Regions from separate parts of the Homo sapiens genome. Here region 2 is linked to region 1. Evidence: fine-mapped expression QTL. Tissue or cell type: testis. Region 1 holds a variant in brackets; the other region holds the start of a gene. All regions are shown on one strand. Distances are between the middles of the regions.

Evidence for each region. PIP is the estimated chance that this variant, and not a neighbour inherited with it, causes the effect.
Region 2: NEK11 starts here. The variant in region 1 is fine-mapped to the expression of NEK11 in testis (GTEx, PIP above 0.99).

What each region holds. Positions count from the first base shown.
Region 1 is chr3:130,881,140-130,889,247 of GRCh38, forward strand. All of the region lies in intron 1 of LOC107986023 (a long non-coding RNA gene), which reads right to left. It also overlaps a transcript of ATP2C1 not described here. Among named protein-coding and RNA genes, the nearest start is that of ATP2C1, 8.9 kb to the right of the region's middle. The variant C/T (reference allele first, on the strand shown) is at 3,697.
Region 2 is chr3:131,023,040-131,031,129 of GRCh38, forward strand. It overlaps NEK11 (NIMA related kinase 11), which reads left to right and starts at 3,838. Exons shown (of 18, transcript NM_024800.5): 1 at 3,838-3,967; 2 at 4,891-4,963; 3 at 6,574-6,839. The coding sequence starts at 6,670. ASTE1 (asteroid structure-specific endonuclease 1) reads right to left here and starts at 3,786. Exons shown (of 6, transcript NM_014065.4): 1 at 3,468-3,786; 2 at 2,435-2,555; 3 at 966-2,292. The coding sequence starts at 2,267. RefSeq lists enhancers at 3,438-3,677, 3,818-3,877, 3,958-4,147.

The DNA.
Region 1 (8,108 bases):
AGCATTTAAATGGAGGGAGGAGGCCTAGGCTATTAATGCAAACACAGCTAGAGGCCTGCAGATATGACACAGAATTTTTCCCACAGTTTTAATTTAAAACAACCAACCCGTCAGCAAAGCTTTCAAAGTTGGTGGAAGATATTGGCCAGTGGCAATTTAACTTACTCACCTATTTTAAGACCTCCTTTTCTTTTTCTTCTTCTTCTTCTCCTCCTCCTCCTCCTCCCCCTCCCCCTTCCCCTCCTTTGTCTCTCTCTCATCCAGGCTGGAGCGCAGTGGTGTGAACATGGCTCACCACAGCCTTGTCCTCCTGGGCTCAAGCAGTCCTCCCACCTCAGCCTCCCAAGTTGCTGGGACCACAGGTGCACACCACCATGCCCAGCTAGTTTTTAAGTTTTTTGTAGAGATGACGTTTCTCCATGTTTTCCATGTTATTACTTCTATTTCTTTGAGGAAAGTCATTGGCATTTTGGTAGAGATTGCATTCAATCAGTAGATTGCTTTGGGTAGCATGGACATTTAAAAATATTAATTCTTGCATTCCATGAATATAGAATATGTTTACATTGTTTTGCATCCTCTTCAATTGCTTTCATCAGTGTTTTACAGTTTTCATCATAGAGATGTTTCACTTCTTTGGTTAAGTTAATTTCTAGGGATTTAATTTTATTTGTGGCTATTACATGTGGGATTATTTTTACCTCTTTTTCATATTGTACTCTGTTGGCATATAGAAATGCTACTGATTTTTGTATGTTGATTTTGTGTCCTGCAACTTTATTGACTTTATTTACCAGTTCTAATAGTTTTTGGTGGAGTCTTTAGGTTTTTCCAATATATAGTCATATCATCTGCAAATAAAAATAATGAAACTTCTTCTTTTACAATTTAGATGTTAAAGAACATTTCTCTTGCCTAATTGCTCTAGTTAGGACTTCCAGTACTATGTTGAATAATAGTGGTGAAAAAGTGGGCATCCTTTTCATGTTCCAGTCTTAAAATAATGACTCTAAGTTTTTCCCCATTCAGGGTAATACTAGCTGTGTGTCTGTCATATACTTTTTTCTTTCTTCTTTTTTTTTTTTTCTCACTCTGTTGCCCAGGCTGGAATGCAGTGGCGCGACCTTGGATCACTACAACCTCCACCTCCTGGGTTGAAGTGATTCTCTTGCCTCTTGTAATCCCAAGTAACTGGGATTACAGGCATGCACCACCACACCTGGCTAATTTTTTATATTTTTAGTAGAGATGAGGTTTCACCATGTTGGCCAGGCTGATCTCAAACTCCTGACCTCAAGTGATCTGCTTGTCTTGGCATCCCAAAGTGCTGGGATTACAGACGTGAGCCACCATGCCCAGCACAACTTTTATTATGTTGAGATATGTTCCTTCTCTACCTAGTTTTTAAAGGGTTTTAATCATGAACAGATGTTAAATTTTATCAAGTGGTTTTTCAGCATCAATTGAAGTGATCATATGGTTTTTGTCCTTCATTCTGTTGCTATGACATATCACATTAATTGATTTGCATGTGTTGAACCATCCTTGCATCCCAAGGATAAGCTCACTTGGTCATGATGAATGATGTCTTTAATGTATTGTTGAATTTGGTTTGCTAGTATTTCATTGAGGATTTTTGCATTAATATTTATCAGAGACACCAGCCTGTAGATTTTTTTTTGATGTGTCTTTGTTCTTTGTATCAGGGTAACACTTGCCTCGTAGAATGAGTTTGGAAGTATTCCCTCCTCCTCTATTTTTTGTAATAGTTTGAGTAGCATTGGTATTAGTTCACCTTTAAATGTTTGGTAGAATTCAGCAGTGAAGCCATCAGGTCCCAAGCTTTTCTTTGCTGGAAGACTTTTTATTATGGCTTCAATCTTGTTACTTGTTACTGTTCAGGCTTTGGATTTCTTCATGGTTCAATCTTGGTAGGTTGTTATGTGTCTAGGAATTTACCCATTTCTTCTAAATTTTCCAATTTATTAGCATATGGTTGATGATACTAGCCACTAATGATCCTTTGAATTTCTGTAGTATCAGTTGCAATGTTTCTATTTTCATCTCTGATTTTATTTATTTGGGTCTTTTCCTTTTTTTTCTTTGTTAGTCTGGCTAATGGTTTGTCAGTTTTGTTCATCTTTTCAAAAGACTAACTTTTTGTTTCATTGACATTTTTATTGTTTTCTTCATTTCAAACTTATTTCTGCTCTGATCTTTATTACTTCTTTTTTCCTACTAATTTTGAGTTTGATGTGCTATTGCTTTTCTAATTTTTTTAAAGATGTATCATTAGGATATTTATTTGAAGTCTTTCTTCTCCTTCTTTTTTTTTTTTCTCCACAGAGTTTTGCTCTGTCACCTAGGCTGGAGTGCAGCCTAGCTCACTGCAACATCTGCCTCCCAGGCTCATGCAATTCTTCTGCCTCAGCCTCCCAAATAGCTGGGATTGTAGGCACCTGCCACGACGCCCAGCTAACTTTTGTCTCTTTAGTAGAGACAGGGTTTCGCCATGTTGTCCAGGCTGGTCTCAAACTCCTGACCTAACCTCAAGTGATCTGCCCACCCTGGCCTCCCAAAGTGCCGGGATCACTCATGTGAGCTGCCGCACCCAACCCTCTTTCTTCTTTCTGATGTAGGTACTTAGAGCTTAAACTTCCCTCTTAGTAGTTATAGCTATAAACTTCCCTCTTTCAATGTATCTGATATGTTTTGGTATGTTGTGTTTCCATTAGCATTTGTTTCAAGAAATTTTTCAATTTCTTTCTTAATTTCTTTTCTTTCTTTCTTTCTTTTTCTTTTCTTCTTTTTTTTTTTTTTTTGATAGAGTCTTTCTCTGTCACCCAGGCTGGACTGCAGTGGTGTCATCTCATCTCACTGCAACCTCCGCCTCTCGGGTTCAAGTAATTCTCCCACCTCAGCCTCCCGAGTAGCTGGATTACAGGCTCTGGCCACCATGCCTGGCTAATTTTTGTACTTTTAGTAGAGAGGGGGTTTCACGACATTGGCCAGGCTGGTCTCCAACTCCTGACCTCAGGTGATCTGCCCACCTCGGCCTCCCAAAGTGCTGAGATTACAGGCGTGAGCCACTGTGCCCGTTCTCCTTCTTAATTTCTTCATTGACCCACTGGTCATTCAGGAGCATATTGTTGAATTTCCACGTATCTGTATAGTTTTCAAAATTCCTCGTTATTAATTTCTAGTTTTATTCCATTGTGGTCAGAGAAGATGCTTGATATTATTTCATTTTTGGGGAACGTTTAAGACTTCTTTTGTGACCTAACATATGGTCTGTCCCTGAGACTACTCCATGTGTTGAGTAGAAGAATGTGTAATCTGCAGCCATTGGATGAAATGTTCTGTAAATATCTATTAGGTCCACTTGGTCTACAGTGCAGATTAAATTTGATGTTTGTTGATTTTCTGTCTAGGAGGTCTGTCCAATGCTGAAAATGGAGTGTTTAAGTCCCCAGCTATTTTGTATTGAGGTCTATCTCTCTCTTTAGCTCTAATAAAATTAGCTTTATATATCTGGGTGCTCCAGTGTTAGGTACATACATATTTATAATTGTTATATCCTCTTGCTGAATTGACCTCTTTATCATTATATGATGACCTTCTTTGTCTCTTCTTATAGTTTTTGTCAAGAAAACTATTTTGTCTGATATAAGCATAGCTACTCCTGCTCTTTTTTGG[C/T]TTCCATTGGCTTGGAATATCTTTTTCCATCCTTTTATTTTCAGCCTATGTGTATCTTAATAGGTGAAGTGTGTTTCTTTTCTTTCTTTTCTTTCTTTTTTTTTTTTTTTTTTTTAAGACGGAGTCTTGCTCTTGTCGCCCAGGCTGGAGTACAATGGCGCGATTTTGGCTCATTGCAACCTCCGCCTCCTGGGTTCAAGCGATTCTCCTGCCTCAGCCTCTGGAGTAGCTGGGATTACAGGCACCTGCGACAACGCCCAGCTAATTTTTGTATTTTTAGTAGAGACGGGGTTTCACCATGTTGGCCAGGCTGGTCTCAAACTTCTGACCTCAGGTGATCCACCCGCCTCTGCCTCCCAAAGTGCTGGGATTACAGGCAGGAGCCACCACGCACAGCCGGTGAAGTGTGTTTCTTATAGGTGATAGATCACTGGGTCTTGTTTTTTAATCTATTCAGCCACTCTGTGTCTTTTGGTTGGACAGTTTAGTCCATTTGCACTTAATGTTATTATTGATAAGTAGAGACTTTCTCTTACTATTTTGTTATGTGTTTTCTAGTTGTTTTGTGGTCTTCTCTTCCTTCTTTCCTTCCTTCTGTCTTCCTCTTAGTGAAGGTGATTTTCTCTGGTGGTATGATTTAATTTCTTGCTTCTTATAGTTTTCGTGTCTATTGTACGTTTTTCAAGATGAGGCTTGCAAATACTATCTTATAACCCATTATTTTAAACTTAAGACAACTTAAAACTGATTGCATAAACAAAAACACATTAAAAAAAAGAAAACTAATAGAAACTCTACACTTTAACTTTGTCCCCCTGCTTTTTAACGTCTTGTTTCTCTTTGTTTCATTGTACTATGTCTTGAAAAGTTGTCGTTATCATTTTTGGTTGGTTCACCATTTAGACTTTCTACTTGAGTACTCTACATGCCACAATTACAGTTTGTTTTTGCAATCAGTTATAATATTCTCTGATTTTCTATGTGCTTACTATTACCAGCGAGTTTGTACATATATATGTATTTTAATTTTTATATTAGATTTGGGGGTACACGTGAAGGTTTGTTACATAGATAAACACGTCATGAGGGTTTGTTGTAAATATTCATATAGATGATTTCTTATTGCTCATTAACATCTTTGTCTTTCAGGTTGAAGAACTCTGTTTAACATTTATTTTAGGACAAATCTAGCATTGATGAAATCCCTCAGCTTTTGTTTGTCTGGGAAGGTCTTTGTTCTTCATGCTTGAAGGATATTTTCACCAGATATACTATTCTACAATAAATTTTATTTTTTTCCTTTAGCACTTTAAATATGTCACACCACTCTCTCGGCCTGTAAGATTGCCACTGAAAAGTCTGCTGCCAGACATTTGGGAGCTCCATTTTATTTTATTTGTTTCCTTTCTCTTGCTGCTTTTAGGATCCTTTCTTTACCCTTGACTTTTGGGAGTCTGATATATTAAATACCTTGGGGGTAGTCTTTGGGTTAAATCTGCTTGGTGTTCTACAGTCTTTTAGTACTTGAGTGTTGATATCTTTCTCCAGGCTTAGGAAGTTTTCTGGTATCATCCCTTTGAATAAACTTTCCATCCCCATCTTTTTCTCTACGTCCTCTTTAAAGCCAATAATTTAAGAGTTATTGCCCTTTTAAGGCTATTTTCTAGATCTTATAGCCATGCTTCATTCTTTTTTATCCTTATTTCTTTTGTCTTCTCTGACCATGTATTTTCAAATAGCCTTTCTACATGTTCACTATTTATTTTTTCTGCTTGATCAATTCTGCTATTAAGAGACTCTGATGCATTCTTTAGTATTCCAGTTGCATTTTTCAACTCTAGAAGTTTTGCTTCTTTTTAACTATTTCAATTTGTTTGTTAAATTTATCTGATAAAATTCTGAATTTCTTTTCTGTTATCTTGAATTTCTTTGAGTTTTCTAAAAAGAGCTATTTTGAATTCTCTGTCTGAAAGGTCACATATCTCTGTTTCTCCTGGATTGATCCCTGGTGTCTTATTTAGTTCATTTAGTGAGGTCATGTTTTCCTGGATGGTCTTGATGTTTATTGGTGTCTAAGCATTGAAATGTTAGGTATTTATTGTAGTCTTCACAGTCTGGACTTGTTTGTGCCCATCCTCCTTGGGAAGGTTTTTCAGGTATTTGAAAGAACTAGGGTATTGTGGTCTAAGCCATAGCTGCGTGAGGGGGCACCTCAAGCCTAGTAAGGTTGTGGTTCTTGTAGACTTGTAGAGGTACTGCCTTGGTGGTCTTGGATAAAACCCTGAAGAATTCTCTGTATTATGAGGCAGAGACTCTTGTTCTTTACCCTTACTTTTTCCCAAACAAATGAAGTCTCTCTGTGCTGAGCTGCCTAGGGCTGCAGGTAGAGTGACATACTACCCCCCTGGCCCTCACTACTGGGACTGTGCTGGGTCAGACCTGAAGCCAGCACAGCACTAGGTCTTGCCCATGGCTTTCTGTAACCACTACCTGGGTACCACCCATGTTCACTCAAGTCCCTAGGGCTCTACCATTAGCAGGTGGTGAAGCCAGCCAGGTTGGTGTCTTTCCCTTCAGGGCAGTGAGTTCCCCACAGCCCCGGGTGGGTCCAGAGATGGTGTATGGGAGCTAGGGACTGCAGTCAAAAATCCTTGTATGTCTACCTGACGTTTTATTCTACTGTAGCTAAGCTGGCACTTAAACCACAATACAAAGTCCTTCCTGCTCTTCCCTCCCCTTTCCACAGGCAGAGGAGCCTCTCCCTGTGGCAACCACTATCACTGGGCCATGGGTGGTTTTCTACACCACCATTGGTATTCACTTAAAGTTCAAAGGATCTTCAGTCAGCTTGTGGTGAATGCTGCCAGGCTTGGACATACCCTTCAGGGCACTGGGCTTCCCTCTGGCCCAGGGAAGGTCATGAAATGCCATCCAAGAGGTTAGGCCTGGGATTGGGGACTTCACGAGCCCACTTGTTGGTCTAACCCACTCTGACTGAGCTGGTATCTAAAGTGCAAAACTAAGTCCTCTTTACTTTCCCCTCTGCTTTTCTCTAGCAAGAGGAGTCTCTCACCATAGCCACCACAGCTGGCAATGTTCTGGGTCTCACTTGAAGACACGTCTCAGAGTCTCACCCAAGGCCCATGCCATGATGCACTACCTGGGTATTGCGGCTGATTATTTAGTACCCAAAGGCTCTTTATTCACAGGTGATGAATCCTGCCAGGTGTGGATCCTTCCCTTCGAGGCAGCGGTTTACCTTTTGGCCCATGGTGTGTCTAGACGTGTCATCTATGAGTTAGGGTCTAGCATGGGGGCCTCATGACTGCCCAGTGCCATATCCTACTGTGACTGAGCTGGTATGCAAGATGCAAAACAAAGTCTTCTTTGCTCTCCTCTTCATACGCAGAGGAGTCACTTTTGTTGCTTCAAGCTGTGCTGCCTGGGGTTGGGGGAAGGATGGCACAAGCACTCCCTTAGATTCCCTGGCTAGTGTCTCCCCAGGTCATGTACCACCCTAGTCCAGTGGCTCTAAGCCCATCCCAGCCCAGCACTAGAAGTTGCCTAAGAACTGCAATCCCTGTGTCCTAGACAGACTTTCAAGTTTACCTAGAACCCCAGAGCACTTTGGCCTATGGTGGTGAGGCTTGCCAAAAAACTCAAGTTCTGACAATTGGGATGGTCCATTCCCCTCTGGCTAGGTCTGGTCCAAATGTTCCCTTCATGCATGAGTGCTGGCTGAGCCCAGCATGGCTTTGCTCTCCACTGTGACATGGCAGCACTGAGTTCAATAGAAAGACCACTAGCCACTGCACTCTCCCTCCCCCAAGTGCATATACTCTCTGTGTAGCAGGGCTGCTGCTAGGTTATGGGGAAGGGGTGGTGTCTGTGATTCAAGACTGTCTCTCCTACTCTCTTCAATGATTCTTTCAGTGATATGAATATAAAACCAGGTACTCCGATTGCTCTGATTTTTGGTTCTTGTGATGGTATGCAGTTAGTTGTTAAACTTTCCAGTATGCAGATATTTGTTAAAATGTGTTGTTCCTGTCGGGGGTTATCAATGGTACAGGCTTCTATTCCGCCATCTTGCTCTGCTCTCCAAAACACTTCGAATATTAAACACTGAAATAAATGTGAGTTATACATACATTTAAGAAAGATTAATAAAACAAATAAGGTAATTATTTACCCAATTATTCCAGTTCCGGGTTGTAGGTGGCTGGAGCCTATCCAGCGGCTCAGCACTCAAGGGAGGAATCAACCCTGGACAGGATGCCATTCTATTGCAGGGTACACATGTACACACACTCACTCACACTGGGACAATTTAGACACGCCAATTAACCTAACATGCACAACTTTGGGATATGAGAGGAAACCAGAATACCTGGAGAAAACCCATGTAGACA
Region 2 (8,090 bases), 140 kb after region 1:
ATTGCCAGATGTCCTCTGGGGGACAAAATCACCAATGGTGATAAAGCTTTGGTGTAGACTGATAACAGTGCTGGGAGAACTCTGACAGAAAAGGAAGACCTGACTTAAATCCACTGGGAAGCTGTGGTTGCCGTCCTACATCCTTAAGTAGACTGGTGCCACGTGTGGTCTGTGAGTTTTGTGAGACTGAATATTTCATTGGATCTAAGAAGATCCCCTAATGGGCATTGCAATTGTTTTTTTTTTAAGTTATCTCTATTTAATGTCTAAATCTAGTTCTTTTATCAGCATAGTTTCATATCTATTTGTAATTTTAAATATATATGTAATATAAAAAGACAACACTGGGATCCATGAGAATTTTTTTCTCCTTGAAAAGGTGGTCTGGGTGTTACTCAGGTTTAAGCAACACTAAGTTAGACTAAGAGTCATGTTTTCTGTATCAAACTAGGCAAATAACCATAATGACACAAAAACCTATTTTAAAAAAGGTATTCATTAATAAAAGTTAAAAAATTAGACCTTAGCATCAGTACTAACCTTATCTGAAATCCGATGTAGTCTGAGATGTTGTGCCTATGATTAGTGTCTATACACTTTTTTTGCAGTTGTGAATTTTTTTCCTTTTTTTTTCAGCCACGTAACCCATTCTATTGATAGCTAGTATTAACCTGGTAGTAATAACAATATAGTAGTAATAACTGTGACGATAACACAGACTACTGAAGTACAGTGGAAATGGTAGATTTAGAGCTAAAAGAGCTAGGTTTGAGTCCTAGCACTGACACTTTCTGGCTAAGACATTACCTAGTTCACTCAAGTTCTAGATTTCTTAGCTACGACATGAGGGCAAGATAGCACTCAACCTCATCAGTTTGTTATAGTAAGTGAACTAATATAGAAGACAGCACTTTGTATCCTGTAAAGTACTTTACAAAAATTTCATTAGTATTACAAATACTTACCTCAGTCAATCTGCTTAAGTCAGAATGATCCTTGGCCAGTTCTACTGCATCAATGATTGAGGTTCTGATATTTTTATTAATCCTTTCCACTTCACTGAAAGCTAGAGGCTGAGGAGGCAATGCATTCCAGGATGTCTTGTCCAGATGTGGTGAGGCATTTAAAAGAAGCCCATAGATGATTTGCCTGATGGGCTGAGATATTCTGTGGGCATTTGGTTGCTGCATGTTTTCCACCTGTGTGGGAAGAATGGTCCGTCTTAGGACCAAAGCATCACTGATGAAAGGAGATAGCTGGCCTTTAGCTAAAGCCACTAATACCCATTCTGGTAAACCAAGATTCAAGGCATCTGGACAGACATAAGTACCACACTGGAAGAAGTCCTGTAGCTTCACCTGGGACTGTTGGTATTCTTCCATGGAACAGCAGAGAAGTTCCTTAACATTTTCTCGATCCTTTTTTGGGAGGTATTTCAGAACATTATCTAGTGCTTCGGTAGGGTTGGCAAAATGAGACAACCAATTCAGAAGTCCCAGGATTCGGTGGTGTCTCCTCCCTTTAGAACTGGTAGCTCCAAGAGGAAGACGCGCTTTACTTAAGAATGTCTCCATGATGGGTAGATTAACATGGTCATTTCCACATAGCACCGCAAAGAGAGGTAGTAGAGCTTTATTCATATTGCTGAAGTGATGGCAGAATGCATCAAGGGAAAAGCATTTGGCAGGGATATAGTTTTGTGTGCCCTTAATAGTGTTCATATTTCTCCACTGAAAGCTATTCAATGGGCAAAACCCAGTTTTCAGGTCAAAAATGCAAAAGTCACTATCTGATGATAACACAGGGCAATTCCAATGGTTAGCAAGTGTCATAATGTCCCGATCTGCTTCTGAAAAGCACTGGACAAAACACACCCGCAGCTTGATCAAAACCTGTATGAATACTTCCCGGATGAGTAAGGGACATACGTACCCACTCCCACCAACAGAAAGGGAATGGGCCATCTGGATCTTCTCTCTAGCTCTATCCTTTAAAGTTGTAAGCTTTTTATCTGAAATGTCACATCCTCCATCTAATACAACATATGGGCATATATTACAAGCAAACAGTGATTCAAAGAATTTTTGTACAACATCTGCAAAAGAATCATAGTCCCCTCCATACCGGAGATCCAAGTTTGAACTGAAGCAAAGACGGTGGAAAAGAGCATAACCATCAATGACAATTTTTGTGTCCCGCAACTTCAAATCAGTGAAGAACTCATTACTATGATCTTCCACAAAACTCATTAGTCCTCGGATACCCATGATGACAGTCTAAAGAATTAATCGCCTGTTTAAAACAACAGAAAACATTTTCAATTGATGCTAGTTATGGGGCACCAAGTCATTGCTTCCAGCACCATTAAATCAATAGCAAATGTTATGAAGTGCTCTTTAGATAGAACATAGATATCAACATCATAAATTCTTACCTAGATCCTCAAGCAATGTTAGCTGTGCTTTTTCATTCTCCTTTGCTTTCTGATACAAGGCACAAATTCAATGGTTTCATGGGTTGTAATCTTTGGATGGTGACAGAGGCTGCTGCTAATTCTAAAGAAAAATCAGTTGAAGTCCATTACTGACACACCAGTATAGAAGTTCTGTGAACTTTGATTCTTAAGTGGTAATAGTCAACATCTTACAGCACAGAGTATTTGTTTTGTGGGGTCAAAGTAAAAAGTCCTAAGCTAAAAAAAAGATATCATATTCATCTCATAATCACAAAGCATTTGGGCTTCAGTAAAGTAAGGTGTGTAGGACCTATGATAAGGATCAAGTTTTTCTTTTGTATTGACAATCAGTCACGGAACTTCTTTCAGGCTTTGGATTTGTGGGCCCTTCTTAATTGGCATAGTTTTTGGTATAAGGAAAACTGCTTCATGCCTCTAGGAACCCCTCTATCCAGTTACACCCCTAACCACGAGCTCTTTTCATCATCTTATTTTGCATATCTGGCCCAGCTACGCTTCCTCACCTGGCTAACTTAACTCGCAGGATCAGAATTGATGGTTTTTCTTTTGACACCTCGGGCTTCAATATGGCACAGCACGGTACTGTTACTATTACTTAAAATCGTGACATTTTGTCAGTCATGGATTTTTTTTGCTATAATTTTGATTTTTAGAGATTGCATTAAAACTTACCTTGATTACTGAATTTTATTGGCATCCATTTACATTTTACACTTATCTCACCCTAGTTCCAGCCCTGTCAGTATCTCAGAACCTTATCCTGTATAGTACTTATTTCTTTGCAAGATAGTTTTGTAAAGCGTCCATAAGCAGAGACTGTGTCAAGGCGTCCTACGCAAATTACAGGACCTTGCACAGACAGTTGCATAGAGCTGCATAGGGGAAAGGCGGGCAAAAGGTCTGACCTAAGTCTTCAAACACAGGCCTTCATACACCGTGCCACCTCGGCCCTCACAACCCGCCGCCCGGACCTGCAGCAGAGCCCACCTACTCTGTCCTCCCAGAGGAGTAGCTCCTCCATCAGAAGCCCGCTAGAGCCCAGCGAGGACTGGCTCCTGCACGTGAGAGTCCAATCTCAAGAGCGGGAATCGGAAGTCTCCCGGTGTGACGTCTCTGGGAAGTACAGTTCCGTGATGCCGGTGGCGCCAGACTGAGCCAAGGAGCAGGTGTTCTCGGGCCCAGAGGCGCTAAGTAGCTAAAGAGGGCTGGGACGTACGTTCCGAAATGGCTGCTGTCAGGCTAGGAAAGCTTGGCCCGCCGGTCCTCCTCTGCTTTCTCCGCCTACTTGGGTCGGCGAACACTTCCGCCTTGGTGCCGCCTCGCCCCGACTTCCCAGTATGCCCCGCGCCGTCTCCCTGGCCACGGTTCCAAACAGCCGTGGCCCGCGGTGTCTGGCGCTCGGTGGGTGTGGTTGCCCCTAGTTTGAGGCCTGCCCGATTACCCGCAAGACTTGGGCAGCCCCGGGCGCCGCTCCGACCACGACAGGGAAAGGTAAAGCGAACTGTCCTCCTTGGGGCTAGCCAGGCTCCCCTGCGAGGGGGAAGGTAATGGTTTCAAGCTGCCCGGGCTGGGTTCCGAATCTCTAGGACGCCATGGCTGCGATCTCCTCGCTTTCCTGGACATCTTACCTCCGGATGTACTCCAGTCTCAGTGCCCCTCAATAAACGTTAACCTGCTTTGCCAAAATGTAAATGTTTAAAAAGGTGAAGAAGCAAGGAATTGTTCGTTTTACCTTAAGGTTAAGATTTACTTTAAAGGTAGATTTGTGCTGTAGCAGAAACTGGTGACAAATTGCCTTCCTCTTATTACCTGGGAAGATAACTACTGGTTTTCAACTTGTGATAAATACTCCTTCCGTTGTCTTTTGCCCCCAGCCAGATCTGTTTCACCGAGAACGGGTAGTTTGCACAAGGTAGTAACTTTCTCCAAGTTCCCATCTAGCTTTCTTAACTAACCTTTTTTCTCTCCTTTGGGCGGCAGTTGATCTGCTGGACACTTACTTGCCTTAACAAGGTTTGTTAAACACCTAGTATATGCCAGGAGGTATGCCAGGGATTGGGGATGCAGAAATAAAGAAGATGTGTTCGCAGTGCCCAAGTTCACTCAAACCTCGAGGGGGAGCGTGTTGTCAAGTGAACAGATAGTTCTAGAATCTAGACAATGCGACACATTCTTGGGTAGGTTTATGGTTGCGCAGAGGAGACTAATGGAATGGATGACCTAAAAGTGGACTGGGATGGGGGTGGCAGGGCTGAGTCTGTGAGGGTGGGCGGGAGGGAACCTAGTCCCAGAGTCTTCTGCAGCCTGGACCAGACTACTTAAGCACTGCTGGGTTTAGACTGTCCTTTAAAATAAGAGCCGCTAGAAGTGAACTTCTCATTCTGTCCGTCCCTAATTCTGTCCTTCTCTAAAAGGAACCTTAATCTCATCTTTAAAATAAGGAGAATTACTGAGTGACCTGAAGGACCCTTTTCAGCTGGAAAGTCTGTAAGTCCATATATTTATTTGAACAGCTTAGTATGGCCAGACGGCATCACTTTTATGACAGTGAAGGGGAAGTAAAAACAAAAGGTATATTTAGAGGCCTGCTCTGTAGTTGTTTTTCCAGCAGATTTTACTAACGTGTCTTTGGAAGGGAAAAGAAAAAGCTGGTAACTAATCTCACTGGTATTAGGTACAACTTAACTGATTCATACATTTTAAGAAGGAAAATGTTGTAAATGGGCATTTACTTATGTTCTGTTTTGAGGATTTTTGTGGTTAATTGCCCTAGTAGTTTTTGTGGTTGACGGACACCACCACGTAAAGCCCATTGACCATCCTTAAAAACTAGGTTTTTGTCTCATAGCTTTGGAATTGTTGAATATGAAAACCTAACTTCAAGGTGTAGGCAGTTTTCAATTTAAAATGTTATTTCTATATAGATTTAAAACAAAAGCACACTTTTCTTGATAACTAACAAAACATTTAACATTCTGATGAAATAAAAGTGATTTTACTTTGTACCTACTCATATGAAACAGTCCTGCCTTTCTTTTTTTTGTTTTTGTTTTTGTTTTTGTTTTTGTTGAGATGGAGTCTTACTCTGTCGCCCAGGCTGGAGTGCAGTGGCGAGATCTCACTGCAAGCTCCGCCTCCTGGGTTCACGCTATTCTCCTGCCTCAGCCTCCCGAGTAGCTGGGACTGCAGGCGCCCGCTACAATGCCCGGCTAATTTTTTTGTATTAGACGGGGTTTCACCGTGTTAGCCAGGATGGTCTCGATCTCCTGACCTCGTGATCCGCCCGCCTTGGCCTCCCAAAGTGCTGGTACTACAGGCGTGAGCCACTGCGCCCGGCCTAAACAGTCCTGCCTTTCATAACTGCCACGTCTCATAGCTCCCTGAGGAATTACAGATTTATCTGTAGCATTTATATTCCACTGACATTAAATGGGATTTTAGGTTTGAATTGAATTTGTAACTCTTCCTGTTTTTAATCCAGAGAGATTATACACAATGTGTACAATAGGAACTTCAGAAACTAGAATTTGCTGAGCATGGGAAAAAATTCTCAATCCTTATCCTTCTTTGCATCTGTCCTAATAAATACAAAAACTGTGGTTTAACATCTACAGAAAAAAATAAATCTAAAGGAAACAGCACCTGCTAATTCCTTGTTTAATCCTAACTCACTCTTTGTAAACCAAAGTAAATATAAGGTGAGAAGAGGGCATTACAAAAAGGTTGATGCAGATGTATAGATTTAAGGAGGTGATAATGTTCTTGTATTTGGATTCTTTTATAAGTAGTTGGGGAGTATAAATCTTAAATAAATGAAGAGATTGCTCATTGTAAAACAGATGTACATCCCAGAAATTTGTGGAAAGTTGGCTATAATTCACTTCTGCCAAATTTCAATGTACAAAGGGAGGCTCTTCCTGTGAAAGATTGCCTTCTGGAATTTGTGGTATCTCTACCTTTTAACATTTTTTTTCAAGTTGTTAACCAATATGGTGTCAGTCTGCTGATCAAGGTGCAGATATCACTGCACTTAACACTTTTTGTTAGACATCGTTTAGCAACCTTTAGACCTGATCTTTTAACTTTTCATCTTTAAGGAACTGACCAACACTGGATGAATTTGACCATTTCTTAGGAGACTGGAATGTTAAGTTTCTATAAATGAATGAACCAGTTCTCTCTTGTTTGGAGCAATGCTGAAATTCCAAGAGGCAGCTAAGTGTGTGAGTGGATCAACAGCCATTTCCACTTATCCAAAGACCTTGATTGCAAGAAGATACGTGCTTCAACAAAAACTTGGCAGTGGAAGTTTTGGAACTGTCTATCTGGTTTCAGACAAGAAAGCCAAACGAGGAGAGGAATTGTAAGTAAAAATGCTTCCTATGAATCTTGAGTAGGCTGCTTTTTGTTTGCAGGTCTTAGCTGATTAGGAACATGGAGCAGGCCAGGTATGGTGGCTCATGCCTGTAATCCCAGCACTGTGGGTGGCCAAGGTTGGCAGATCACTTGAGGCGAGGAGTTCAAGACCAGCCTGGCCAACATGGCAAAACCCTGTCTCTACTAAAAATACAAAAATTAGCCAGGCAGGGTGGTACATGCCTGTGATCTCAGCTACTTGGAGGTTGAGGCACAAGAATTGCTTAAACCCAGGAGGTGGAGGTTGCAGTGAGCCGAGATCATGCCACTGCCCTCCAGCCTGGGCAACAGAGCAAGACTGACAAAAAAAAAAAAAGAACATGGAGTAATGTCCACTTTGCTCTTTATACCAAAGCAAGTATTTCATAAATATAGGTAAGCTCCCTAATTAATCTTTCATATTAGGTTTAAAGGCATTTCAGCAGGTGAATAAAGTATCCAAATGACCTAAAGAAGGGAGCTAGAAATGGGATAGATTATGTGAAAATAAGATGTTTGGGCATGCCACAGTCTCAGTGACAATATTACTTCCACTTAACTTGATTGGAACTTCTTGAATGAGAAAATAAGAATTGTTCATAATGACTATTTTTAGAAATGTTACAAAATGCAAATAAACAATTATTCACATTTGAGATGAATAGGGTATACCAAAGAAAGTAACAGTATTAATTTTCTTTGGGCTTTCCATGGCGAGGATTTTCAAATTCCGTAGTCAGAAAGCTGTCAGATTAAACACTTAAACCAAATGGACACTCCTATTTAAAATTAGCTTATGTTAATGACCCCCTTGTCACCTCGTCTCTTTTGATTATGATCGGACCCTCTACACTTTCATAGTAGAGAAAAACTCTTAATAGCTTCAGACAGTACCTCCCTTACAGATAAACCTCTAGTTTTTGTGTAAAGTTTTTTTAATTTGCTGCAGTGGAAAGTAAGTTGGAACTGAAGTTAGGGTAAGAAACTTGCCTATCAGAAACACAGGAGGAACAGAAAGCAGAAGGAAGAATGATCCAAGATATCAGCCCTTAACCCCAGAAGACCACATTTTCATCCCATAATATATTGTTTTCTTCTAAGGTTTTAAGGCTACTCTAAGTTCTTCCAGCTTTTGCCTATTGGATATTTAAGAGTGGATTTAAAATCAGTGTGATAAACACTTTTCTACATCTTCATAGGTCATAGGAATTGTAAAGGT